2 separate regions of the Homo sapiens genome follow, and region 2 is linked to region 1. Evidence: fine-mapped expression QTL. A gene starts in region 1. The other region holds a variant in brackets. All regions are shown on one strand. Distances are between the middles of the regions. Region 1 holds the start of VSTM2L (V-set and transmembrane domain containing 2 like). Region 2 has its middle 19 kb from the start of LINC00489.

What was found. PIP is the estimated chance that this variant, and not a neighbour inherited with it, causes the effect.
Region 2: its variant is fine-mapped to the expression of VSTM2L in spleen (GTEx, PIP above 0.99).

Annotation. Positions count from the first base shown.
Region 1 is chr20:37,900,459-37,904,846 of GRCh38, forward strand. It overlaps VSTM2L (V-set and transmembrane domain containing 2 like), which reads left to right and starts at 2,669. Exons shown (of 4, transcript NM_080607.3): 1 at 2,669-3,013. The coding sequence starts at 2,893. The region is part of intron 2 of LOC124904896 (a long non-coding RNA gene); the gene reads right to left. RefSeq lists an enhancer at 1,969-2,932.
Region 2 is chr20:37,639,866-37,644,253 of GRCh38, forward strand. No RefSeq gene overlaps it. Among named protein-coding and RNA genes, the nearest start is that of LINC00489, 19 kb to the left of the region's middle. The variant G/T (reference allele first, on the strand shown) is at 1,629.

The DNA of each region.
Region 1 (4,388 bases):
AGGATTTCTCACATAAACAGGCCATCAGAGGGTTTTTTTAGCAGAACCATTATATCATGAGCATTTTCTTCTTTTTTCCTTTTTTTTTTGAGATGAAGTCTCACTCTGTCACCCAGGCTGGAGTACAATGGTGTGATCTTGGCTCACTGAAAACTCCGCCTCCCAGGTTCAAGCGATTCTCCTGCCTCAGCCTCCTGAGTAGCTGGGATTACAGGTGCCCACCACCACTCCTGGCTAATTTTTGTATTTTTAGTAGAGATGGGATTTCACCATGTTGGTCAGGCTGGTCTCGAACTCCTGACCTCGTGATATGCCCACCTCGGCCTCTCAAAGTGCTGGCATTACAGGCGTGAGCCACCACACCTGGCCGATCACGAGCATTTTCAAAGGCATACAATCCCTGGATGTCTGTCCTTGAAGGAACCTTGACCTTGTTCCAGGCTTCAAAGAGAAAAGATTTCTGAAGGTCAGCCGGTGGGCTAGGGGCACAGCAGCAATGTGCTGCCATCCCGCCAGACCCCCTTCCTCTGCAGGCCTGAGCAATCTCTTGTTTACTCCTCTTTAATCTCCTCTCCCTCCCTGTCCCCTTGCCTGTGTCTGCTCCCTCCAATCTGTGGTTTAAGAGGAGAAAGCCCGGGTTTGAGTCCCAGTTCTGTCACCACAGTCTCCTGGTGAGGCCTCAGGCTGGGGTTGAAGGAGTCCTGGGTTTTAGTCTGGCTAACATGGTGGCTGCTATGTGATCTGGAGGATTCTCAGTTTCCATATCTTTATGATGGAAGCAGTAGTTCATTTCGCTGGGAGCGGGGTTCAGGGTAGTTAATGAATGAGAAAACACGTGCATAGAGTCCAAGACGCCTGGCCAGCCCAGGATAACCTAAACACCACCTCTGTGTGGGAAGAAAGTGAGAAGTGAGAGAATCAGGCAAACACGGCCCCTTCCTCCAAGGCATGTGGTCCAGAAGGTTCGGGGGGTGGGGGAAGCGGTCGACGCTTGGGACCTGTCCTCGGTACTGAAGGGAGCGCGGGGGCTGTGGACGGTGCTAGAACACAGTGCTTGTAAGTGCGGGACATCGTGGAGGAGGTGTCCTTAGTTTGGAAGGAGCTGGATTGTTGCTGGCTACCACGGGCCCCATCCGGTGTGCTACCCCCCCCCCATAATACTGGAAGGGGGGCGCTAAGACAGAGGGAAGACGGCGAGGGGCTATGTTCCTTGGTCTCTAACCTTGTTCTCAAACTTGGGCGCTGTACACACGGCTGGACGCGGGATCCACCTGTGTTCTGGAGTGGGGAGTGGGCTGTCGGAGGGGTTGACCCTGTTCGACGGGGACGGGGAAGAAAGTCTGAGGGTCTGTCCACGGTGTGAACCCTAGCATCAAAGGGCCAGTTGAGACGCTGTCCACGGTGCCCAAAGGATGGGCCCGGGTGGGGCGGGGGGCGGGGGGCGGGGGGGGGGCTGGCGCTGTCCTCCTCCGTGGTGCTGAAACCGGGAGGACCAGGCTGTGTGAGCAGGGAGGCCTGGGGAAGGGCAAGGGATGAGAGCAGGAGGGACCCCGCCCAGGAGTCAGGGGCCTCGCCCGACTCGCCGTGGGACCTCAGAGAAGCTAATTACCTGATTTCAGGCGCTTCCTTATCTTTTAAATGGGACCACAGTTCCGCCCTCCTGTCTGTCCCATCAGCCCCAGTAACACGGCTTGGGAAGGAACTGGAGGACTTTGTTGGATTCTTGCTCTTGGGAATGGGAATGGTGCCCTATCCCCCTCCCCTGCCACACTCACACACACATACACCCACGCATACGCGCGCGCACACGCACACGCACACACACACTCATGCACACACACACCATCAAGGCTCATTGGTCTAGGGAAGGAGCCTACAGTCCAGAAGGGGGCGATCCCATCCACCACATAAGGTCCAGTATCTTCAAGAGCCAGGAGCCGCAACAACTAACTGGCCTGTCTCTCTCCCATTACAAAGACTCGAAAACTGAGTCCCAGAAAGGGGAACACCGACAATAATAACTACTGAGCTCCTACCACGTAGGCAGCATTATGCTAAGCGCTTTGCATGCACGATTTCGCAAATCCTCACCAGGACCCCCGCAGACAGCTATTACCCCTATTTCTCAGATGAAGACTTCGAGGTTCAGAGAGGGGTAGACACCCGGACGCGATCACACAGCGAGCCGAGGTCGGCGGCAGAGCTATCACCAGGTCCCCTGGGTCTCAGCCCAGGCTCCCACCCTACCTCGCCCTCACCCCCAGCCCCACTGGCCCCTGACCCCGGCCCCGCCCTGCCGGTAAAGTTAGGAGCCTCTGAGTGCGCTGGCCTGGCGGCGGGTGCCCTGGCTTTTCTCCCTCTCCCCGCTGGACGGCATTTCTGTGGCTGAAGCCCGTTGGGTCGTGCTTTGCGGGAACCGCGTCCCTGGGGTGGCTCTCTCCGCCCCATCCCGGCCCCGCCTCCGCACTCGGGCGGGGGAAAGTTGCGGGTACCGCTTTAAAAATCCCAGCCTGGGCAAAACTTTGATGATAAATCAAGCGGCAGATCCCTCCGCCGCCTGCTCCGAGCGGGAGGAGGGAGGGGAGGAGGGAGGGGAGGAGGGAGGCGGGAGGAGGGAGGAGGGTGCGGCGGCGGCGCGGCGTGGCCTTCCGCGGAAGGGAAGAGTCCCGCAGTCGGAGGCGGCCGGCTGGGCGTGCGCTCGCTCCCCGAAGCCGGGGCTGGGCCGGAGCCGGGCGAGGGCTGGGAGCTGGGCCGGGTCCGGGGACAGCGGGCGAGGGGCAGCTGCCGGAGCCGGGCAGCCAGGCCGCTCAGGGCAGGGGACAGCTGGCGCCGGTTCTGCGGTCTCCGGGGCCCAGATGTGAGGCGGCGGCGCCCCCGGCCCGAGAGCGCACGATGGGGGCCCCGCTCGCCGTAGCGCTGGGCGCCCTCCACTACCTGGCACTTTTCCTGCAACTCGGCGGCGCCACGCGGCCCGCCGGCCACGCGCCCTGGGACAACCACGTCTCCGGCCACGGTGAGTTCGGTCGCCGCCCCCGCGGACTTCCCCACCAAACCCCAACCCGGGCCGCGCCACTCCAACTTGGCCGCCCCGGGGCTCGAACCGGCGCCAGTCGTGGCGGGCATCCCGGGGCGCCCCCTGCCGGCGCGGTGGACCCGCCCTGGCACCCTGGCCCTGCAGAGAAGGGGGCACCCGGGGCGCACCCCCGAACCTCCTCCCCACACACTCGCGCGGATACGCACACCTGCATGGCCACACCGATATGCACAGCCGCGGACACACTCAGAGCCACAGTCGCTGCTTTCTCACACTCACAACTCCTACCCTGCACATCTCCACACACCTCAGGTCCCCCTCCTCACTGCAAGCCTTTACACTTATGCCCACTACACACGCACATCAGGCACTGCGCCGGTGGGCTCACTCTGCCAGCTGGCGCACACGCTTCGCCACAACTCTTGCCTGCCCACCTGCAGACACACTGGTGCGCGCGCGCGCACACACACACAGGCACACACATACACACACATGAACACAATTTGCTCACCCACTCCTCTCTGCCCATCTGCCTTTACTCTTCTGGGTTTAACCGCACAGAGGCCCTTGTCCTCTTCCTCTCCACACCCAGCCCTATACCACTGGAAAGGTCCTTGGGGGCAGAAGACCTTGTTTCTTGAGAACTGGTCGCCTGGGGCTGCAGCCTCCCAGTTGGGCGGGTGGCACCTGGTGGAAGCCCCTCAGAGCCACCGGAGTAGTTGGGGTTGCTGCTTGCAGCCAGAGGCATGGGAGTGGGAGTGGAAGTGGAATGCCGGGTGCTTTTGTCTGCCTCTGGGGATGGGCAGGAAGCCGTGCCATCCTTCCATAGGGTACCCCCATCCTCATCCTCGGCCCTAGAGGACTGAAATGTGGGAAATCTCAACTCCAGCCGCTGTGGAAGCCGGGGAGCAGACAAGCATTCCCAGCACTGGCTGGCTGAGTGTCAGAAGCTCCTGCTAGCCCCGAAGGAGCCCAAGTTGGCAGCAGAGTTGGACTGTATGAGCCCGGCAGCTGTGGGGGCTCCCCCTGACCCCTGTGAGCCTGGCTCTGGGATGGAGGCTCGAGCATAGATGAAACCAAAGGAGACCTTTCTTCCATGCAGCCCTTCACTAGACAGGCTGACAGCCTTGTTGGGGAGGCTGCAGCCCCAGTGCTGGGCACTGTGGGCCCAGGGCTGTGGGGAGGTTTGCACAAAGGCCAGATAATTGGATGATTTATTCTGATGGGAGTGAGTGGGGGTAAGGCAGGGTAGATAATCAGGGAAGGTTTTGCTGGGGTATGACACATGAGTGGGATTGCTCCAGTGGAGAGGGGGGCTTCGAAGCCATCCTCAGGGTCTCTGCTTTTTGGGAAC
Region 2 (4,388 bases), 260 kb before region 1:
CTCAGGACAGTCATGCTGCTTAAATGTAGCTTAGGGCTCCAGAGCCAATGTCCTTGACCTCCTTCCAGAAGTGTCCCAGTGTCACTTACATGGCATCCTATTGGCCACAAACAAGTCATAGCCTGCCCCAAATCAAGGGAAGGGAACACGGGCCCCACTTCTTCCCAGGACAAGTCTCAAGGTCATATTTTATAAAGAACACGTAAGATAAAAGATGCTGTTGTGCCTATCTTTGCAAAATATGCCCTGCCATAGATCTGAAGGGTGAGTAGGCGTTAAATAAGCAGAGAAGAGAGTTCCAGGCAAAGGGACAGCTGGCACAAAGGCCCTGGGGTGGAAAGAATGTGTGGTTTTGTACTGAGGAAGCACTCAGGGACACAGTAGTGAGTAAGACAACAACCCATAACGTTTGGAGCTTCCATTCTAGTGGGAGAGACAGACAATAAACACACAAAGAAACAAACAACACAATTTCAGGTTGCAATCAGTCCCAGAAAGGGAATACACTGGGTGCCGTGACAGAGTGAGATTGGGAACTGGAGTAGTACTTCAGGCTGGCAAGACCTTTCTGAGGGGGTGGCAATTGAGCTGAGAGCTGCAGATGAGAGGGAGCTGGCCAGCCACGCAAAGGGCTGGGGAAGAGTGTTCGCATCCGAGGGAACAGCATGTGCAAAGGCTAAGAGGTGGAAAAGGGATGGGTGGCATGGTTGAAACTTGGTACGCAAGGGGGCTGGCAGGTGTGACATAAGGATGGACAGGGCGGGAGAGGCCAGGTTTTGCAGGGCTCTGGCAAGGAGTTTGGACTTATTTCTAAGTGTGACAGGGAGCTATTAGAGGGTTTTAAGCAGGAGAGTGATGTGATCTCATTTTGTAATAGAGATCCTCTGGCTGCCGTGGCACTGACTTCTGGGCGTGATGCCAGACTTCCGTTCCTGGCAGTACCATGAATGTGCTGTGTGACCAGAGGCTAGTCACTTAACCTCTCTGAACTGTAAAATGTGAAGAATGGAATATAGTGGGCAGGAAGGAGGGAACCCAGGGAGAAGGCTGTAGCATCATCCAGGCAGAGATGATGGTGGCCTGGACCAAGGTGGTTTCGGTAGAGTTGTTGGTAAGAAATGGGTAGGATCACGACAGACTGGGAGGTAGAATGGACAGAACCTGGTGATTGGATGTGGAGCATGAGAAGGAGGAAAGTACAACCCCCAGGTTTCTGGCAAAGCTTAATCTTATTTTACAGCTCAGAGAGGTTAAGTGACTAGTCTGTGGTCACACAGCACATCCATGGTACCCAGAATTTAGTGCCACCCTCTGGTACTGATACTGAGCCCTTGGCCCTTTTCTCTGTGTCTCCCCTGCCCTACTGCCCCCCATCACCTCCCCTTCTTCCTCCCAGGATGCTGGTGGCTCTGGTTGACGCAGTCCCAGCAGGTGTGCCTCGCCAAGCTGTCGGCATGATGAACAGCTTCCCTTGGCTGAGCAGATAACAGTACACACACAGGTCGGGGGGGCCCATGTAGCCCATCCATCAGGCCCGGGAGTGAGTGGAGGGCCGGCACACCCTCATGCCTGTTATCTGCCACAAATGTGTTTTTCTCCCCAAGGTTAACAGGAAGAGTGACAGCCAG[G/T]TGCCTGACATCAGCAGGGCTGGTGTTCGTAGGAGCCAGCCAGACTCTCTCTCCTTTTCTCTCCCTCAGCGTCTGAAGAGTCCTGGGTGTGGAGACGCTTAGAGCCTCAGAATTGCAGACTCTTCAAGTCTTGAGCACTGAATCTTCGAAACTTAGATGCGTACAATCCTTCATTCCTTGAGGCAGGATTGTGTGGTGGTTAAAAGCGGGGACTCTGGATCCCGCCTAACCTGATTGGGTTGACATCCCAGTTCTGCCACTTACTAGCTGTGTTATCTAAGGCAAACACCTCAGCATCTCTGTGCCTCATTATGAGGGTGGTAATAGTGTAATAGTGTCTAGACCACGGGTGGCCGTGGGGATTATAGGAACTAATCTTTGTATCTAAAGTGCTTAGAACAATGCCCGGCACAGAGCATGTTGCTCATATTGGTAGATATAGAGTTCTTAAAGACACAGAATCTTCAAGTCTAAGTTTTAGAGACACAGAACTTTAAAACCTTTGAATCTTCTTAGGGCCACAGATTTTCAGAATCTTACTATTTTAGGTGATTATGGTCACACCTGCAGTGGCAGCTGCAGGGGTTTTAGGCTTCCATAATCTCTGTCACTTCTTTCTCATTTCATTCACATGGGCAATAGCTAGTTTCTCAATCTTATGTAAAGTGTTCTGCAAATATGGTGGCAAGCCCACCTTCTAGGCAGATTGTGGGCCCCACATAGAAATTCTAGAGTGTCTACTGCACAACACCTCACAGTCTCTATAAATACGTTTATCTAACTATCTACCCAGTCCATCCATCCATCCATCCATCCATCCATCCATCCATCCATGCATCCCTTCATTTATCCATCCATGCATCCTTTCATCTATCCATCTTCCCATCCATCCATCTATCCACTCATTCTATCCATCACCTTCTCACATCTATCAATCAATCTATTGTCTAGCCATCTATATGCATTTCCCATCCTTCCATCCATCCATACATCCATACATACATTCTTCTATCTATCCATCTTTTCATCCACCCATTGATCCATACTTTCATCATCCATCTGTCCATCCATCCATCCATATTTGCTCATCCCTCCTCCCCCATCCACCTATCCCATTTCTCTCTCTCTCCTTCCTTCTTTCTTCCTTTTTAAAATTTTCTCATCCTTCCATCTATCTGTCTATCTATTCACCCAACACTTATTCACTTATTGAGTGTCTATAGCATACAAGGTACTGGATTGGGCTATAGAAGGAGGTCTATGCATTGGCGTCAGTTTCTATCTTCCCTGAGCTTCCAGTCCAGCAGGCCATAGAAGACCCAAACACAAACCTGATAATGCAAGCTTGGCTCTATACAGCAGAGATAAAAAGCCATGCTGAGTGACAGAAAGGGAATTCTCCTTTCTGCTGGGGCCCCTGGGGCAGCTTCATAGCAGAGGTGGTATTTCATCAGGATCTCGAAAGACCCTGTCTTGATGACATTACAAGTGGCTTCATCTTTCAGGGGACTGGGAAGAGAAGCCTGGGGAGCCTTAAACACCATCTGGTTCACCTGGATGACCACTGCTAGGAGGTTTGCTTCCATTTTTTTTTCAAATTTAATATTTTTCATTTTGGTTTAGTGAAGGGGACCAAATGAAAGGAGGTTCCCTTTAAATACCATGTGAAGAAGTGCTGCAATCCCTTCTTGCACACCTCCAGGGCTGAAAAGCTCACTACCAGACAAGGAGAAAGGCCTCTAGAACTCTACTGTGCTCCAGGAACTGAAAGGCACAAAGGGCTCTGTTTGATCTTCCTGACCCCCAGGAACTGTCTATTACTGTTATCTGGGGGGTTGGGGGTAGGAATAGTGCTCTGGACCCAGTGTGTTTGGCTCACATCCCAGCTTCCCATTCATGAACTGTATGACCTGGAACAGGTTACTTCACCTCCCAAGGACTCAGTTTACTCATCCATAGTACGGTGATGGCAATTAGAATACCTCTCATGGGATTGTTACAAGGATCAAATGAGCTAACACATTCATGATGCTGAGTGAATGTTTGTGAAATTATTGCTATTACTGTTTTAGGTGGTTGTATTAGTCAGTGTTGCATCAGGCAGCTCAGTGGAGAGCATGAATCTAGCAAAATCGTGACAGTGGTTTGGAAGAGTTGAAAGTGCAGTGGCTGGAGATTATCAATAGCAGAAAAGATGCTACAGACCATATTCACCATTTGACGAAGGCATCCTCTTTGGACTAGTGGGTGCTGCACAAGTAAATGGGATGCTGTGAGAGAAAGAACCCCAAGACTGGAGGAACAAAGACAGGAGTGATTTTTTTTCAAGACAGGTCTCCTTATGTCACCCAGGCTGGAGTGCAGTGGCGTGATCACAGTTCACTGCTGCCTCCACCTCCAGGTTCAAGCGATCCTCTCACCTCAGCCTCCTGAACAGCTGGGACTACAGGCATGCACCACCACGCCCGGCTAGTTTTTTGTATTTTTTGTAGAGATGGGGTTTCTCCATATGCCCAGGCTGGTCTCAAACTCCTGGGCTCAAGCAATCCTCCTACCTCGGCCTCCCAAAGTGCTCACAGGCGTGAGCCTCCGTACCTGGCCAAAAGAGGAAGCAACGTTACAAGAAAGAGCCCAGGAGTTGGGGCTACCTAGAAGGAGTTGGAACCACAGAGGGAGAGGCTGCCTTTCCAAAGACTAGAAACCAGGGAGGAGATGCAGCTAGTGGAGACCTTGCCCTGAGTAGAGGGAGCAGAAAAATAC